Regions from separate parts of the Homo sapiens genome. Here region 1 is linked to region 2. A link means that fine-mapping ties the variant in region 2 to the plasma level of a protein whose gene starts in the linked region. Region 2 holds a variant in brackets. A gene starts in the other region. All regions are shown on their reverse strands. Region 1 holds the start of GPR37 (G protein-coupled receptor 37). Region 2 has its middle 130 kb from the start of MIR920.

Evidence for each region. PIP is the posterior inclusion probability: the model's chance that the variant is causal. The UK Biobank Pharma Proteomics Project read protein levels with antibody pairs (Olink). The fine-mapping took linkage between variants from a reference panel, not from the people measured, so its PIPs are less certain.
Region 1: it holds the start of GPR37, and the variant in region 2 is fine-mapped to the plasma level of the GPR37 protein (UK Biobank, PIP above 0.99).

Annotation. Positions count from the first base shown.
Region 1 is chr7:124,761,480-124,771,438 of GRCh38, reverse strand. It overlaps GPR37 (G protein-coupled receptor 37), which reads left to right and starts at 5,647. Exons shown (of 2, transcript NM_005302.5): 1 at 5,647-7,485. The coding sequence starts at 6,463. RefSeq lists a silencer at 5,506-5,635.
Region 2 is chr12:24,081,127-24,091,085 of GRCh38, reverse strand. It overlaps a transcript of SOX5 not described here. Among named protein-coding and RNA genes, the nearest start is that of MIR920, 130 kb to the left of the region's middle. RefSeq lists an enhancer at 8,386-9,959. The variant C/TGGTTTTATTATC (reference allele first, on the strand shown) is at 5,994.

The DNA.
Region 1 (9,959 bases), not on the chromosome of region 2:
GTGCTCAGGGATGCTCAGGGAAGGATATTGAGTTCATGAAGAAATAAGCAGGAAACTAGCTTTGAAAAAGCATTCCATGGACCAGCTGGGGCCTTGGAAGACAATGCAAACACTAGAAACTAGTCATGTCAGGCAATCCAAATTTCATAACCTTGGGCCAAATCTTAAAATTCTATTAAGTTGATCATTCAAAATGTCTACATTATCAGGTCAATTTGTTGTGATAATACTGAGTCACACCCTCTCAACATCCTGAGTGAATTAAAAAAACTAAATATAACACAGAGATACTTTTTTCTTTCTTTCTGGACCTCAATCCAAATAAAGAAAATATCACCTGCAGAAGATTCTAAAAAGTGAACAAGCAAATCAGGAAGATTATACTAGAAAAGCTATTTGTTGTTGTTTTTGACCAGTCTTTAGGGTAGTTTTATAACTCTCACAAAGCAGATATTGTTTTGGTACTATTTATATTTCAACCACTAATCAGGAAAATAATGCTAAATGTGCCAAGACTCAGGTCTTAGACGTACGTGTTCATTGAATTGATTTCTTTGCCAGAGCTAAAATTTAATAGGTTGCCAGGAGAGCCAAATCAATGGTGTATTATCTTTTAAAATCCCTTCTATCTCAACTTTTCACTTTTCATATAGAAATCCATGCTCTTCCTTACTGACTCTGTATACAAAAATTATTCTGGTCAGAATACTAAAAATTCCAATTTGCTAGCCTTTGTTATTTGAACCAGGCTGACACTTCTGCAATTTGGCTTGACTTGCATTTATTCTAGTGTATTATCCAGTATCAACATTACACAGAAAACTAATTTAAATAATAATGCTTGGTCAGAGATGGAGCAACAATATAGAATAAGATGATTTGGTTTAAACAGTCTCAGAAGGAATCTTATTGATATAGCATACAGCTTGTACCCAAATTCTGGGAGAAGGAAGTAAAATGTATCTTTATATCACATTTATTTTGGTATATCTTTATATCACATTTATTTTGGTATTATAAAGATACAATAAAATGTATCTTTATATCACATTTATTTTGGATAATTGTTAAAAAGTTCAGCTTACTATGATTTTTGGAAGATTTACAATTAATGTGCTTGCTAGGGAAAATACACAATTTGAGAAGTCATGAGAGGCTGAAGCCTGAGATGGTCTGATCTCCTGCTACATTGCTATTGGCTGAGGGCCAACTAAGTATCCAAATTATCTTTGCTTCAAAAAGGATGTTGATCAAAAGGTAGGGGTGCATTTCACAAGCATTTATTTCTATAAAGAATTATGAAAGGTTGAGAATGTTTGGTTATGCTTGTGTTAATTCATCTTCAGTTTCACCCTTTTGCATTCAAGTTTCTTTACAAACAACAACAACAACAACAACAAACCGAATCCAACAAAACCCAAAGGACTTGGCTATGCAATTAGTGTGCTGGTCCAAGTATGGTTCAAACATATTTTATGTAGCCCAATGTCTACATTTTTGTCTGGAATAAATAAAAGACTATTTTGATTATTGTTGTTTTATTTTAAATTTTAAGTACTTTAATTTTGATATTTGATTTTTAAGGTAGACATAACCATATTGATATTATATTCCAAGCAGTGCCATTTCCCACCCGTTAATGATAATTTGGCTCTTATATATGGCAAAAGAGAGAGGTGATTAATGAAGGTGATCAATGGAGGCTTCCAAACTAACAATTAATAATTCAGTGACAGAAAGGCTGCAACCACAAACTATTTGGAAAACAGACAAATTTTGAATTTCAGAAAATAATAATCTATTGGTGGTATGTTACAGTTTCTTTCAGAAAAAATGACCCTTTTGAATTATCTGAGGCAAAAAAGAAAGAAAATTATTTGATAAGTGAATTGTGTGCTGGGTAAAGCTTCTGTTCAACGATGTATCTTAAAACTTGAAATAGTAATTTCTCTCATTCTGTGATGTGTGTTATTTCAGCACACCAAACACCAAATGAAGTGTAATAGATTTTATAAAAATGCCAAGGCAGGTAATAATTTACATGTTCTTTTTTTATTAAAAAAATCAATAGTATGTATTATAAACCTTGTGAAATGCTGACACAGGAAAAAAAATCCATGTTCAAATCAGTTTTCTTTGTACAGATAAATGGCCTCAGATGTAAACCAGACAATGATTAGCTAATTCCTTTTCTGATCTATATTTCTAAAGTAGAATCTACACAAATGAATGAGATGTGACTATTTCCATTTAAAATTTATAGTTACAGCTGAGCTAAGCTTTGGAAAAATATTTGAAGATGTGTGTTTTTCTTTTTGCAGGGAATGCATTCTAAATTTTCTTATAAACCTATTACTTTACACTTTTATTTACCAAGCATATTCTTTTTCAAGGATTATGTGTTTTTGACAGCATTTAAATTTCACTAAAAACAAAGTTGAACTACCAAGAGCAACAGTAATAAATATTTTATACTTTATGTAGTCTTTTCATATCTACCTAATCCACATAACAACTTGGGTGAGCAGAGCTGAGAGTAGGTATTAGTATCCTTATTATACAGATGAGAAAATTGTGTTTCCAAAAATATAAATAATTGATATTTTTGGAAACACAATTTTATAAATAATTGATATTGACCTGGGCTCCAATAGAGTAGCTGGAGCTCTTTGGTTTTATTCATGGTCCGAATAAGTTAGAGAACCAGAACTTGGCAACCATCCAAGTAGGTAGGCATCATTGTTCAGGTTAAGGAAGGGACCACTCATGAATGAGATACCACCACAGACAAACACAGGTAGCTCCTCCTTCAGGCCTTTCCCCAGCCACTCTCCAAGCATGGTACCTGAGTTCTATAGCCCACCACTTTAAGAATGATGCCCAACTCTGGGCCAAGCATGTGTGAATTACAATGGAGCTTCTAAGGGAGCAGGTAAAGGGATTTTTCCCTGTTTAGCTTTGATTCCTTTCTGTGTAGTGATAGAGATTAGTGACACATTTATGTGGTCTAGAGTAAAAAGGATAGAAACATATCTTACATGTGTAACTTAAACTCTAAGCTAATGAGATGAGAAGGGAAGCTATATCACTGTTTCATTTTGGCAACTTATTTTTCCTGTTTCATTATTAATCCAGATTTCCCTCTTCTAAATTTTTTTTAAAGAAACAAGATACTACAGTTAGAGTAGAAGCTTCCTTCCATCCCATGACCATTCTTCTATTTCCTGAGGTGACTAATATTCTGAAGTTGATCTGTATTTATTCCATTCACATATTTTATATGATACACCATGTATGATTATCAAATTGTTTTATGTGCATTTTAAGAGCTACACAAATGGTAGCATTATATAGTTAACACATCAAGTTCTACGTTTTTCCCTTACATTTATGTTTCTGAGATTCAGTCTTGGTGATACACATAAGCCTAGTTTGTCCTTTTTATGAGTATACAAGAAAATATAAATTCAGTGAGAGCAGAACTTTATTTTATTCACTGCTCTGACCTAAGTAACTTGAGCAGAATATTTCTTTAATGAAGTAGTGAATTTGAGAGAATGAGTTAGTGTATATAAATGAATGAATTAATGTACAAATGAATGTGTGCTATTAGCTTATATTTTTTCCTATTTCTGGCTTTGTCTGATTTTGACATTAAGGTTATTCTGCCTTCACAAAATGAACTGAGTAGCTTTAAAACATTTTGTATAAATGTATATTTATTCCGCAGGATATGCTAAGGTCTAGCACTTTCCTCTGGGTAGATCTTGATGAATGATTTGATTTCTTTAATGTTATAGTTCGATTACAGTTTCTGAAAATTTTCTTCTTGAACTATTTTTGGTAGTTTATGTTTTTCTATACAATTATTCCTGTTGTCTCCATTTTTAGATTTAATGGTGTATTAGTTTACTATTGCTACTGCAACAAATAACCATAAATTTTGTGGCTTAAAACAACACACATTCATTATCTTACAGTTATGGAGGTCAGAAGTCTCAAATGGGCTAGTAGATCCTTTTTTATGCCCATTCTAGCTTCCAGAGATTGCCCACATCACTTGGCTTGTGTTTGTTTTTACTCTGACCCTCCTGCCTCTCATTTGTAAGGGCTCTTGTGATTATAGTGTACCCACCTGGATAATCACGATACTCTCCCCATCTCAAGAGTCTTAGCTGAATTGCATTGGCAAAATCCCTTTTGCTCTGTAAGGTAACATACTCACAGGTATTAGGAATTAGGATTCGGACATTTTTTTGGGGGGGCATTATTCTATTTACCACAATTGGTATCATATGTTCCATTGTGTTTTCTCCTGCCTCTCTAGATGTGTTGCTTTAAAAAAATTCAGGCCGGGTGTGATGGCTCACGCCTGTAATGCCAGCGCTTTGGGAGGCCGAGGCGGGCGGATCACGAGGTCAGGAGCTCAAGACCAGCCTGGCCAACATAGTGAAACCCCGTCTCTGCTAAAAATACAAAAAAAATTAGCCGGGCATGGTGGCGGGTGCCTGTAGTCTCAGCTACTTGGGAGGCTGAGGCAGGAGAATCGCTTGAACCCGGGGAGGCGGAGGTTGCAGTGAGTCGAGATCGCACCACTGCACTCCAGCCTGGGCGACACAGCAAGACTCTGTTTAAAAAAAAAATTCAGAATGTGTTTATTTCTTCCTCTATCATTTTCTCTTCATTAATTTGTCTATTTTATTAGCTATGCCCTGACAGTTTTGACAGGGTTGTGGGATATAGTAGAAAGGTTGGAAAGGCATGGACAGCCGTGCTGGGAGTGCTGTTCGAGTAATTTTCTGCCTCCAGTCATTTCCCACTACTTCATCAAATACAACTACCTCACTATGCTCTGGGTGGTACGAAGTAACCCATGGTAGGATGCTTCCCAACTCAGTGTTAAAGGTAATGGTGCATCCTGAGCTTTCTCGCTCTGCATCTCAATCCTGGAACTGGTAATTCTCTATGACTGACACCTCTGAGCTCCCATTCTCTCCTATCTCTAGGGAATACCTGAGGAGGTGAGGTTTCACCTTCTTACTCCCCGCGGCCCAACCCCCGTCCGCCCCTCCCCCGCCCCGCCCCTCGCCCCCCAGAGCTGAGACCTGGGCATGCGCATCAGCCGCAACAGATTGGAGGGGACCCTGCTGCTCACTCCCCTGCTACCCTCCTCTCTTCCCTCCCCCGACCGCTCTCATATTCCCGTTCCCACCCCCACCCCCCACTCCCGCCCCGCACCCGCCCCTAGCCCGGGCTCGGGGACCTGTCAGGCTGGTTTCGACAGCTGGGGAATTAACCTGTCCCGCCCATCCCTAGCCTCGAGCCGCGCAGGCTCCGCGCCTCCGCCCTTGTTCCCTCCCAGCTCCTCCGAGTGGAAGCCGCTACAAATGGCTTGAATGAAACGTGTGTGGGTTTAGTGAGTGGTGAACCACCAGGGGATCCCGTCTCCCCACAAACCAGTATCTCTCCGAGGAGGAGGCGAAGGAGTGGGAGGAGGCAACGAGCCGAGAGTCGAGCTTCGCGGGCGCGCGCAGCGGCTGGAGCGCGGGGGCGAGGCCGGGCCACCTCCCCTTCCCGGCCGCGCACTGCCTGGCCCGCGGCGGTTCCAGGCACCACCCTTCCCGTCCGGGCTGAGCCCGCTGTGGCAGTGACTAGCTCCCGCGGCTAGCGGCACTGTCCACCGACGAGCGGCGCCCTCTTCTCCCCCTTCTCCCCACGATTTCCTTCTCTGCGGCGGCACGCCGTCCAGCAGCCTGCTTCGCCCCGTCGTCAACTTTGAGCTGGAGGAGAAGCAACTTTGGCAGTGGCCGCGGGGTTGGAATCCCGCTTCTCCTCGGCAGCAGTAGGCTCGCAAGTCGCTGGGGTTAGGTGGGGCAAGAGTTTCGCCGGCGCATCAGCGCTGCTTCGGACTGTTTGCAACGTGTTTCCAGCGAGCTGGGAGCGGGGTTGTGACTGCGAGTCGTCTGGGGGAGGGGGACTTGTTTTTCTTTTCCTCTAGAGACCTCGGCTTGCAACTGGATCAAACGCTGTCGAAAGGATGTAAATAGGCAGAGCAACTGTTACCAAGAAGGCCACCACCCCCACCCAAAGGCAGTGAGGAGTGTGGGGCTTCGTCTGGGCTCCCCCGAGTCTCAACAGTAATCAACAGTCAGGTGTTGATTGCAACTTTTCAAGGTCAGCCACCGGGAGTAGCCTATTCCCTCTAGGAACCTTGGAGGGCATACCTTGCTGGGACTCAACTTGGCTGAGAAATGCACAAGATGCCAAAGGAGGAAGGATTATAGGGGGCGTGTGTGTGACCCCCAAGACCGATCTTCCGCTATCACCCTAATCTCCGGTTCCCCGCTACCCGGGCGGGGGTGAGTATGTGACATGTGCCTAACTCTCAGCAGCAACTTCGGCAGCAGGTGTCGATCCTAACTAAGCAGGAGCTGCGGCTGCCGGGTGTGCCCTCACCAAGCCATGCGAGCCCCGGGCGCGCTTCTCGCCCGCATGTCGCGGCTACTGCTTCTGCTACTGCTCAAGGTGTCTGCCTCTTCTGCCCTCGGGGTCGCCCCTGCGTCCAGAAACGAAACTTGTCTGGGGGAGAGCTGTGCACCTACAGTGATCCAGCGCCGCGGCAGGGACGCCTGGGGACCGGGAAATTCTGCAAGAGACGTTCTGCGAGCCCGAGCACCCAGGGAGGAGCAGGGGGCAGCGTTTCTTGCGGGACCCTCCTGGGACCTGCCGGCGGCCCCGGGCCGTGACCCGGCTGCAGGCAGAGGGGCGGAGGCGTCGGCAGCCGGACCCCCGGGACCTCCAACCAGGCCACCTGGCCCCTGGAGGTGGAAAGGTGCTCGGGGTCAGGAGCCTTCTGAAACTTTGGGGAGAGGGAACCCCACGGCCCTCCAGCTCTTCCTTCAGATCTCAGAGGAGGAAGAGAAGGGTCCCAGAGGCGCTGGCATTTCCGGGCGTAGCCAGGAGCAGAGTGTGAAGACAGTCCCCGGAGCCAGCGATCTTTTTTACTGGCCAAGGAGAGCCGGGAAACTCCAGGGTTCCCACCACAAGCCCCTGTCCAAGACGGCCAATGGACTGGCGGGGCACGAAGGGTGGACAATTGCACTCCCGGGCCGGGCGCTGGCCCAGAATGGATCCTTGGGTGAAGGAATCCATGAGCCTGGGGGTCCCCGCCGGGGAAACAGCACGAACCGGCGTGTGAGACTGAAGAACCCCTTCTACCCGCTGACCCAGGAGTCCTATGGAGCCTACGCGGTCATGTGTCTGTCCGTGGTGATCTTCGGGACCGGCATCATTGGCAACCTGGCGGTGATGTGCATCGTGTGCCACAACTACTACATGCGGAGCATCTCCAACTCCCTCTTGGCCAACCTGGCCTTCTGGGACTTTCTCATCATCTTCTTCTGCCTTCCGCTGGTCATCTTCCACGAGCTGACCAAGAAGTGGCTGCTGGAGGACTTCTCCTGCAAGATCGTGCCCTATATAGAGGTAATGCCTTCCAGGGGCTCTCAAGCTAGTGGCTTTATCTGTTTTCGGGATTATAGCATCAGAGAACTGCTGCTGGATGCACCTATCTAGCTGAACGCCTTTCCTTTTTATCTGGGGCCCTCTTTCATTTCTCTTTCCAATCATTTATGCATGTATGTATATACAAAAAGAGGCAGCTTCGCGAAATCACCTTCAAATTCATCTGCTCCTGGGCTGTAAAAAAAGGATGATCTCACAATATACAGAATTGTTTGGAGTATAAATCTATCTCCCTGAATATGGTGTTATGCGTATTTCTGATTTGGCACTTGTCAGAGATTTTAGGGTTAAGTAAATGGCCAGCCTAAGGTTGTCATCATCAGAGCCTACAAGGAAAAAAAAAAAAACATTAGCATTTGTGTACTAGTTACCAAGTGCTTCAATGTGAGTTTTCCCCCAAGAAGATTATTGCATTTTTTCTTAAACAGCAAAGTTGGAGTAACATTTTATTGAAAGAAAGAAAGAAAGAAAATTGTGTTTGTCAGTTGGCCTCATGATATATTAATAACCTCTCAAATTAGTTTAAGTGTCTGACTGTCTTCCATGCTATCCCATCTAAATTCTTAAGTCATTTTTTGTTCCTGTCTTTTCCCATCTCGGTTTCTTAATTTTATTTTTGTGTGTTTGCGTGAACTTAAGCAAAAATAAGACTTTGGCCAGCGTGGCACATAATTTGTTTAACATTCTCAAAGTTATACATTTGTTATTTGTTATGGGTGGAAAGATTGGCTATTTTAAGGGATTGACCCTAAGACTAGAAAATTTCTTGGGAAGAAGGGGGCACATCTAGTTTCCAAACTTTGGAAACAAAAATCATTTTGAGTGAAATTGCATTGTTTCATCCTACAGCTAGTGTCCTGGCCCACTATTGTGGTAGGTGGACTTTGCTCTTTAAATGGCCTCTCTTTAAACACCAGCTCTTGGAAGGGGCCCAACTGTTTTGCTGCCAGTTGTGTTTTTAGCCAGCTGGCCCTTGATTTTCTCCATTCAGACTGTCCATTTCATTTATGGAAGCAGAAGAAGGGAAACTGTAAATATTCCGCAGCCCCTGATCCTGTCTGGCACCAGGGCCTGTGACACTATGTTCAACATTGTTCCAGGCCTAAAGCTGGGGGATAAGTAAACAGAAAACAGTACCTACTTAGACGGACCAAAGCTGGAGACAGTAAATAAGACCCTCTGTTATCTTGACAGGGATCAGGTGCAGGATCATTCCATGACTATGAAATCAGCTGTTGCTGCTTTAGCAGCGTCCATGATTTCTCCTGTTGCCAAGCTTGGCGTATCTCTGAAACATCTACTTTGTTTGGTAGACAATTCATTTTTGAATTGTGAAGGAGCCAGTTGAACTCATGTTAGAGAATATGTGTCTATTTACCAAACTGCCTCTTCAAGGTCAGTTTCAAATTTCTTTTTTTCTTTTTTTTTTTTTATCAGAAGAAATTGACTTATGCAAGAAAGAGACAAAAGTATAAAGCGGACAAGAGAGGTACCTCAATGACAGAGAAGTGTATTGGCTTATCTCACTGGAAATGTACTGGACATGTAGAAATCTGTATACACTAGAGGGAAAAACAATAGGACAGAAAAAGGAAATTGGGGAAAGAAAAATAAAAACACCAAAGTTCTTGAAAGAACACCTTAAAAGAAAAGAATATCAAATTCAGGAAAGATTATAAAAACTTTGGTTAATTTAATGAGATATAAGCATTTTGAGCAATGGCATTTATTATGTACTTATTTTAATTTTCTTTTTCCGTAATTCTGAGTTTGTACAAATGTAATACTTTCTTTCATTTGTATTTCACTTTTTAATTTAATCAGCTCCTCCTTAAGAGTGCTTTGTTTTTTGCCTCTTATTATTAGTAAAATCTTTTACTTTCTGTATTTTTGCTTAACTTTTCCCCATCCTAGTAGCTTTCTCTATTTTTCAGTTATTAGTGCTAGCATTTATTTTTCTTAGAGAATCAAAGGCTTAAAAAATTCACTCATTTATTTTTTAAAATTACAGTATAATATACATTTTTACTGTTAAAATAGTGAATGAACATCTTAATATGTAGCATTTCTATATTTCTACCTAATCCTTATTACTCTGAAATAATTTTAGAATGGTTTATAAAAATAATTATTGGACAATATTGCTGGCTTCATAATTCCTGATTACTGAGAACAAGAACTACAGTCCAAATCTCAAAATAAAAGTGTGTCTCCAGGAGGCACTGATGTTTTCACAAAAGTAAGAGGTATTTAGGGTTTCTCCTACGTTGGGTTCCTGCAAAAACAGGCCCTGAGATGTAGATTTATTGGGGCATCAAGTTTATTGGGTTGTGCTCTCAGGTTCAACCTATTAAGGAAAGAAGAAAGCAGGATTGGGCGGGCAAAGGGAGAAGTTGAACTGTGATGCAATTGCCACAGAGACCTCAGCTGACACC
Region 2 (9,959 bases):
AACCAAACTTAAGAAAACACTTGGGCTTTGTTCTTTAAAAGTTGCTCTGAATAACAATTATAAGGCAGGAAGTTAAGAAAATATAGCAGCAGAACTCTTGCTTATTGGAATGTTTTTCAAGTTTTTCCATAAGGTGTCGACAGTTCTCTGTCAACTTGAAGGCTGAAAACACAAAAAGCAGTCTTGATTGTCAGGTGCTCTGTGACATCCCTCTCCCACCACTCCCAAGCACTCTGAGCTCCAGTTCAGATGTTTCAGTGTTTTGTAATTTATTCTGTCTCTAAATATCATTTCCCCATTATCTCAGGATTTGCTTTCAGGATGCCTACATTGTGTCATCAATTACCCTGAAAGTACTATAGCACAGATCTTGCTCTATCTTACATTGATAGTATATGGGGTAAAATGGAATTGTTAACAATAATAATGAAACTATTGGTATAGTAAAATATGTCTATATTTTGGCCATACTGTAATCTGAGTATTTGAAATATTTGGAATATCCAGTATTTGGATTTTTTGTTGAGAAGGCTCCTTTGACTGTACAGTAATTTTCTCACTTTTAAATATTTTCTTTTCATGGAATTGTACTAATATATAATTTTGTCGTCTCACTTACTGGCATTACATATGTCTCTTTGAGCTCTTGGGATGATTTAGTCAGTGGTCTTTGACCAAACAGTAAGAAAGAGCACTTTATAATTCTACAAGCGTTCTCAGTGGTCACATAGAAATGTAAGTGAATGTGAGTTTATGCTTCCCTTTCGTTAGCCAACTATCATTCCAAAGTGAGATAAATTATAACTTTCACTGATTTTGAAGGTAAGGATTTGGAAAGGGCACTTGTAAACTATAGATTTGTTGTTTTTCATTTCAAGATCTAAGTAAATGAAAAGAGAAGGACAATATTTTAATAGGCTTTTAATAAAAATGCAGTTTTTAAAAATGGGGTAGTCTCCATATTCTGGGGATTTCTAGACATTTTAAATGAAATGTTACAATGCTGTTAAACATCTAAAATATTTAGTCATTAAAATGTCTTATTTTAAGAATACTGGTTCATTCTTAAGTTGTTTTACGTGGTCTTACGTATTGATTCCTTGAATAAAGGAAAAAAATACCTACATGCTGCTTTCCATTTCCTATATAACAGAGATAAGTGTAATAATTGGAAAAGTCATTAGAACCACTTTGTAGCTCCTTTATTGTACCAAACACTTGTGGAGGGCTAACGAACCATCCAGAAATGAAGAAGGGAATATAATAGCTGAGAGTTCCCATATTCAGAATGCATCTTTCATTTACTTTAACTATTCAGGTCTCATCTTAAAGAATTCCTTATAGGAATCTCTATGGCAATCTGGTGTTTAGACCAGAGAGGAAAGCACATAAGGCCTGGGCGTTTTACCAGTCTTTCTGCTCTTTGTCATATGCTGTTTGGTTATCACCTAGAGGGTACTTCTGTGCCTCAATTTCCCACATTTATCAAAGATGACAATATAGCTCTGTAGTTAATTATAAAAATAATTTAACAAACATTTAATTTTTCTATTTGATTATATGTTCTGTTCCTGAATGTATAAAGACATGCATGTATAGTCATGTATACATTCCTAATATTCATGTATAAATATAAAGCCTAAAGCTTATTCTTTAGAATGGCAGGGCATTAAAATATTCATGCCAGTTTTTCCAATATATCAATTTGTGGGACTAGATTTGGCAAAGCTATCATTTGTAATGACGACTGTAATGCAGATGGATCTTAGTGACTGTATATAGAAACTGGGGGGAAGGGAGTAGCAATCGTTCTTTGTTTTTTAGGATGAAGCAGAAAAATCTGCTCTTTCCTATATATGGAGGAATTTGTTAGAAGCAAGGACTAAAATAAGGAATTACTGATCAGCTAGAAATTATATTTCTCTTATCTTCCTACTTCACTAATATTTTTATCTTCTGAAAATGTATGGGTATTTTTACATTGAGATATTACCGACTTTGGATGAAACCAGTATTTTTCATTTGCAACCAGGAGTATATAACTGGTGTTATCTAAATTCTCTTTAACGAGTCATCAGCACTTTTATTGTAGGCGTCTCAGGCATAAACATCAATAGTGGAATATCCTGTTTCATTCTTAAAGAAATTGGCAATGATTCACATCCATGTGATATAACCTTTCCATGGGATGTGATTCAGAAGGCCAGTGAAGAAGGCACTTTTAAAATCATACTTTTCCTCATTTGAAAAATATCCCCCTAATTAAAATTTACTGCCATAATCCACTGTTATCAGTAGGATTGTATAATGTTCCTCAAATGTGTTGAATTGGAAAAGTTTAAGAATGATTGATTTAGAAATAAGATGATGTCTTCTCAGTATAATCTATAGCCATATTCAAGTAGAAACAACAAATACTCGGAAATGGTAGTGATTAAAGGGTGAGTAGAGAAAAGAAAAGACTAAAATGAGCCCTTTCGCATCTAGTAAGTCACATCTTCATTAATATCAGATCTCTAGAATATTTGCTTAGATTCAAGTTATCAAATTCATATGTGTGTTTTCTCTCGGTGCTTCTCTTGTTCACCAATCAATATTTTATTATCTTTTATTGATTGAAAAGGTGCGTGTGCAGAGTTGTGGTAAGTCAATGCCCATGCAAACCTCACTAAAGCAGCTTTTAGTAGTGAAAATAGTTGATAGTAGACTGTTCTTATTAAAATGAAAAACTTTTGCTACACTATGTAAATGCCAACAATAGACAATTCTAAGACAGCTTATTCAGAGCTTATAATTACAGGGGTAAGGAAAAGCCTATCTTCAAAATGCATCAGTTTTCCCTAAAATCTATGTTTACTCTTAAATTGATGCTGAAAAATATGTAATATCAATCAATATGTTTTTGATTCAGTAACCCTGTGTTGACATATCCTTGATTTTTTTTTAAAGATGAGATTAATGAAAAGACATATCTATACTTTCTCTTAGTATTTCTAAAATATAATAGCAGAGATTATTACCCATTGCTTGTAGCTTTCCTGGGGGATGCAAGTGCTTCCTCCTGCTTTTTGGCCCATTTCTGAGATATCGTTAGAAACTCACTAGTTGGAAGAATGTTGAGGGCTAAAGAGCCTGCCTTTCCTTCATTACACCCAAGACCCTGTTAGTTCTATTAGTAAGGGGGAGAAATAAGAGATGCTTTTATTTTTTCCTGTTATTCATATAAATAGAGGATGTGAATATTTAGAGTGGTTTATTTTAAAATACTAACCCCCAACAATATTTTAAAAGGAAGATTTCCTATACAAAAAAAAAATGTTTAACAATCTGCTCCTAGAAAAGAGGCATATTCTACATATTGTAAACATATATCTACAGTAGTAAATTAAATGATCTCAGAGTTTACAAGCCAGGGTTATGCCTTAATTTGAAGGTCATTGCATTCTCAATATACCACGTTCACAATTCCTTTTCAAGTATTTGCTCTCAGCAAAATGAAAAGCATATTATCTGCCATTTTAATCATTTTGTCAAAGATAAAATAAACTCATCCTCCCCGTGTAGACCTTTGTACCTTGGTAACCAAGTAAATCTGCCTGACACTTGTAGGCAAAGCACCCTATTGGTTTTACTCTGTACACTTTAATAAACACTCAAGGTAAAAATAGAAGCAAGAGATGACGAGTAATAAAGGTAAGAGACATAATCAATTATTATTATTCCTTTGAATGTACGTGTAACAGTGGATGTCACAAATGAAATATTACATCTCTATTTGAAAATTTGTCAATGTGTCCTTTTTTCTTATGCATTTCACTCAAATTATGATAAAATTTTGGCAATTCCTGGAACAATAATTAGGATTATTATTACCATTCTATAATGATAAGCAATTCTAAAATATAAAGAGAGAGAGAGAGACAGAGAACACACACTTGATAATTCTTAAAGCATGTGGTTGTACTGTAACTGTCTGGGCAGTGTCCAACATGTAGAAACATATGCATGAGCCCTTAGTACTGAGTTAATTAAACATATATTTAAATAATTTAGAAAAAGGTCACTCTAAGTTTTGTGAAAACACGATATGTGTATGCCATTTTTGTTTAATGATCTTAGAACCCTCTTTTTGATTGGTACATTCCGAACTATTGTTGAAATACCACTTGTGACAAATTTAAAGATTATTCGAGTAAATGAACATAATATTCTAAACCTTGAATATTTGACTGTGTTTTTGTGTCTCACAGTTACATTTTCTTTGAGCTTGGAGATTCTTCCTAACCTTAGTGGGTTTATATGTAACGACTAATGTAAAGAAAGAAAATAGAAGAGCTTAACTGTTTTGCTGAATGTTTTGACTGTCTCCTGGGCCTTCAGACCACTCAAACTCCATAGAAAGAATATAGTTACTAGAAGTGAACAAGTAAGTAATAATATAGTACAAACAAAAGATTGGGTTTGTAGGTGAAATATCAGTACCAGGAGAATCATTTCTGAAATGTTCTTCTTCTGACTAGCTTCATGAGTGTATTTTTAAACTAGTTTTTCTTAAAACATGACAGTTTACTCTTTCTCATTCTCTCCCTCTCCCCCTGCCCCTCATTATTTACAAAATTCTATATAGAATTTTACATGACATTACATTCAAGTAATGTAAGATTACTTTAAAAACTAGCAAATAGATTTGCTGTTTCTGTGGCAGTTTTTACAAGCACTGTAGGAATTTAGCATTGTGTCCTGAGTTGATTCTGTAATCATGTCTTAGGAGAAACAAATTCTGAGAGTCTATGTAGTCTGGGTAGGTACTTATTATACTTCACAGATTTTCAATTATTTCCAACTAGGGGTTTCTTAACTAAGAGTATATTTTGACAATGAAAAAAAAAATGTACTGCATTTTCCCCTCCCTTAACAGCCAAATTGTGTTTGCCAATGCTTCCACTGGAAACAGAGGGAATCATAGGTAGAACCGTTTAAAAAATATTTTGAATACTCTTGGCTTTCTTAACCACGCAAAAGAAAACTTCTGATTTGGCAAAAGTAGTCTGAGCTGAGAAATACTTTAAGTATTTTACTACCAAGTAAAATATTTGTAGTGTAATTTCAAATACTTTTTTTTTTTTTTTAGCATATCCGTTCTTGTCTGTGTGGACAACTTATGATGTTTATCTTACCTGTGGGGATTGTTTTACCAATTTATGTGTGCTGTGTAAGCTTTTATTTGAGGAGGGTGTCAGAGGGAGGGATATTTTCACAGTTAATTTCTTTACCCAAACTTAATATTAGTTTTTCTTCTTTGTCAATGACAAGATTTTTTTTCTTTCCAAAATGAAGAACTTTTCTTCTTTCAAATATAACAAATTTCATTTTGTTATAAGAATTACGTTGGTGAGACATCTTTCTAGATCTCCCTCTCTCCCATTTATTAGGAAGTAATTACATAAGAAAATAGTAGTTTCTAAGGTGTATGTGGGACTTAGCCCTTAACTATTAGCACACGTATATATTATAGCCAAATAATTAACAAAATATAATTATGTAAATATATGAAATAAAGTCCTGGTTTAACATAATGATACTTCCAATAATTTGTTGAAGCTAAGAATGAGGGCTCTGAGGTCACGCTGCCATCTGACAACTTTGATGTTTCCCCTGACTAGCTATGACTGTGGGCAAGTTAGTTGACCTCTGTAAAGTGGGCACAAAGTTGTATCCAACTCATAGAGCCATGGTGAGAATGAACTGAGATAGTGTATCTGGGGCACATATAGCAGAGTCCCTGGCATGAGCCCACATTACATTGTGTAGTTTTCAGATGGCCCAAAGGTATTCCATTGAGGGGATGAATTCAGGGTGAACAGGCTGAAAGGCATCTGTTGCCCCTCTTCCTGGCCATGCTCTTGCTTGCTGGGCAAGGTCAGGCAAAAGAAAGTATCTTTTTAATTTGAACAGAGGAATCCAGTAGGATAGTGGTGGCTGTATACGTCAGC[C/TGGTTTTATTATC]ATGCTAAGAACATGCGCCCTCTTTTTTCAGGTAGTCCTTGTGGTTTTGAAGTCAGCCTGTGTCTCACATAATCATTGTGAGAGTATGATGTTAACAACACTTCTTCCACAAGGTAGTTAGAAAGTGAAAAAGGCAGATAGCCAAGTGATTTATATAAATATAATCACTTAAAGGTTTCTGTTAGCATCATTGTTATTATATAAAGCTTATCAATTAGTAAAAAGATAACTATAGTTAAGATGTATCATTTGTAGTATTAATGTAAAACATGTAGTGATAGGTTAGGGCTATGCATAACAGAACAACTATTAAAAGGCAGTTTATGCCTTTTGGGTTTACACTGGAGTTCTAGAATAAAATGGGAGGGAGAAGATGATTAGAAACTGCATGAGGAGCACCACTTTTGAAACTAATGCTGACAGCTGATAACAAGAGCAAAGTTATTGTAACTGGTAGTGGACGTTTGAATTGTTGAAATGTGCCATGTTCATATTTTACTTCCAATATTTTCCCTTGACATAATGGATTCTGAAATGAAATGTATAGAGGACTATTTTTAAACTAAGATTTCATTTTAAAGAATATCACACATAAGGGATTTAATTAAAGGATAATGAAGGAGCAAAATAAAGAATCAGGAATCTTAGGTTTTGGAGAGATACTCAAGATATGAAATCTATTTTGAAGCTAACACTGGAGATAAAAGTCAGGAGCTCTCCCATGTTTTTCTGTGATATTAAGGAAATTAAGTCAGAATCCCATCTCTACAGTAGACTGTTTCACTTAACCATTTTACTGACTCCACTTCACCCTTCTGCTTCCTGAATCTAGACACAAACTGAATTTATCCCCTTGGACTGCTCTTCTTTCTCCACTGCCTCTGATCAAATATCACCTGGATATTTTAGATTGGCAGTTTCACATAGTTCAACCTTATAGATACATCCAGACTAATGTAAACCTGTTCAGATCATGTTGACTTACTTCCTCTTTTGCCCACCATATCTGTGGTTTCCAAATCATACAGATTTTTTATCTCCTCAGTGCCTTTCCTCCTTTCCTCTTGCACTGCAGAAACACCAGACTCTCATTCCTTCTCCGGTGAGATCCTGAAGAAGCCTTGGAATTTGTTTTTCTAGTTCTCTATCTCGTCCCACACGAGTCAGCTGTACTTAAGGGTAGCACTTAAGGACCAGCAAGTACTCTATGGCTCCAGCCTAGATTTCCAGACCTATTTTGCCCTAATTCCATATAAATAGCCTCATTAGAAATAAAGTGGGCCACTAATTATTCCTCATTATGATCCAGACATATTACTGTTTCCTTGTGTTTTTACATTTTATTCCTTCTTGCTTCTCCTCTACTCTTTCCCAAACCCCAGCTATAGCTATATTCTAAGTTTTTCACCTTTCAATCCTAATAAATTTAGCACGATGCTTTTCAGATGGCTACTCAATAACTGTGGTAAGTTACACTCAGGATGCCTCCCATAGTTCTGGGGAAGTTCCCCTTTTGACTTCTAAACTGAGAAAAAAACGTTATACCTATTTCTGCACCTACAGTGCTTCACAGTGAGTGATTACAAATGTTTAATTGTATGTTTTCCCAGCCGATTATAAACTGCATTAAGGCATCTACAATGTGTATTGTACTGTAGCATGGCTTGGTACAATGCCTGGCAGATAGCATATGCTTAGAAAATACTGTAGAATAAATGTTGCAGAAAGTTGGTGCTCAGTACATGTTTTAAATCTTGTATGTGTGATTATATATATTTGGTCTTTGTAATTCACGGCATAATAACTGATGAAATAGTCACTATTACAATTTTTTCATGTGTTCAGGGAAGGAGGTCCTTTAATTTGCTTACTAAGGCTTAATCTTATGGTGAAGAGGAGAAATAAAAATTGTATTGTATAACAAATTGAATACACTTGAAAAATTATCAGCCGTTTGATTAGGGAATGCATTTTTAGTTTTCATAACACATGAAAATCTATATGCTGTCAAGGAAAGGTTATTCTAACATTTAAGGAATTACACAAATTCTGTTCTTTAACATGACAGAATAATAGAAAGAGTCCTCTTTGTAATGTTAGGGCAGCTAAGCGTGACCAACATAACTGAGAAGTTTGTTGCCATTATTATCGTTAAATCTATCATTATATCTTTGTGTAATTAAATCTTTATAAAAGCAAATGAGATGAGGTATACTTCTAATAATTAGTGGTTTAGAATAAATGAAGAATTTATAAAGTATATTAATAGTAAGAGGACACCTGACTAAAATCTCAACAGCAAAGATAACTATGACCTGAATTAAAGAGAAGAAAAAACTAAGAAAAAAAAAGATCAAACAGTATTAATATTTCTGCATTTCAGGTGAGTTATCTACATTTTGCTGGTATTTTTCTTCTCATTATCTGTAGAAATCCATAGAAACAAGTCTCTGTGCAGCTCCAAATGCCCCCAATTCCATTTTATATGGTATTTCCAATAAGGGCACCGTTTCTTGCAAAGAATATTACATCTCACTAATTGTCCTACAAATCCCATTCTTAATTAAAATCAAAATCTTAATTGTAACAACTTTACTATATAGCTTGCAAATATGTGTTCTTTCTTGTTTGTTTGGAGGATGAGGCTCTGGATACATCTTTTTTTTTTTTTTTTTTTTTTTTTTTTTTCTTTTCGAAAGGAGCAGCCCTGGTGAGAGAAATTTACAGCAATTGATTTTGTTTGTTTGTGGCTGCAGCCATAAAAACTCCCAGGCAAAACTAAATAGTGCTTGTGGGGCACAGACATGGTGGTTCACAGGGAAACAGTGAGTTTTATAATACTGATAACACTAAACAATAAGACAAGGTATAATAGTTCCAGTCCCATCATTTGTCTCTGCTTTGTCCTGAGTTGTACGCTCCGTCATGCATATGCTGGCTATAATGTGACATATTTAATTCTGCATTTAGTCTCTGCTTTGTTACACATGCTCGAAAATAGCAAGTCAGCTTCTCAAATGCCATGCATCAGCCCTCTAACAACAACAACAACAAAATTAAATACAAAGTAAGTTTGAATAACAGTAACGGTGGGAAAATCTATCCCAGGGTTCATTCTTTTTACAGGGAGTTGGCAAACCAGGAAGAATAGATTTTGTCATGTGCAAATATGGTGACCATAAATGGTGCTGGAGGCTTTTTCCATTGTCCTCTGAGTTTGCCATGAGAGAAAGCGGGTGAGAGAAAGAAAGACACGTTTGATAGAGTTGTGAAGAACGTTTGAATGGCTATTGGGTGTTGAGCATTGTCTTGCAGTGACCTCAATTCGGTACAGTAGAGACCCTTGAAAGCACTGTCTGAAGTCACAATACCACTATTCTCCTCCATTTAGTAAAAGGGATTAGTTAAAAGGGTGACGTTCCGTGCAGAGAGTTCCAAGTATTCCATGAAACAAAAGGCTCTGAAATGTTTTTGAAGTTATTTTTAATTGAGTTGAACTAATTTAATAAAGGTCCTACGGAGGAAAAAAAATAAAGGAATGTGATTGTTTTATGATTCCTCACAGATGGAATGGACATTTATAGCATACTTTTCCTTTAGTGTTCCAGAGAACAGTAGCTCCATTTACAGCTACTGTTAGCAATTTAAAACTGCTCCAAAATGAAGTCTTTCAAGAAGTTGACAGCTTATAAATAAATCTGTCTGATAAAATTGAACATAAACTGCATCTGTGGTTAGTTTGCCAAAATTAATTCTACATTTAATTAGAGATAGCAGTCAAACATATTTAATAAAAAACAGTCTTGGAGAGTAAATCAAATGAAGTCAGATTTTAGCAGACGTTTTGCATTTTTTTGCAAGGAGTGATGAAATGACCTCACCTCTCTGATTCCCAGTTATATGGCAGCGCGAGCTCTGTAGAGTTATGGGGAAGCCAATGAGTTCACACTGTTTGGAAAGGTTCCT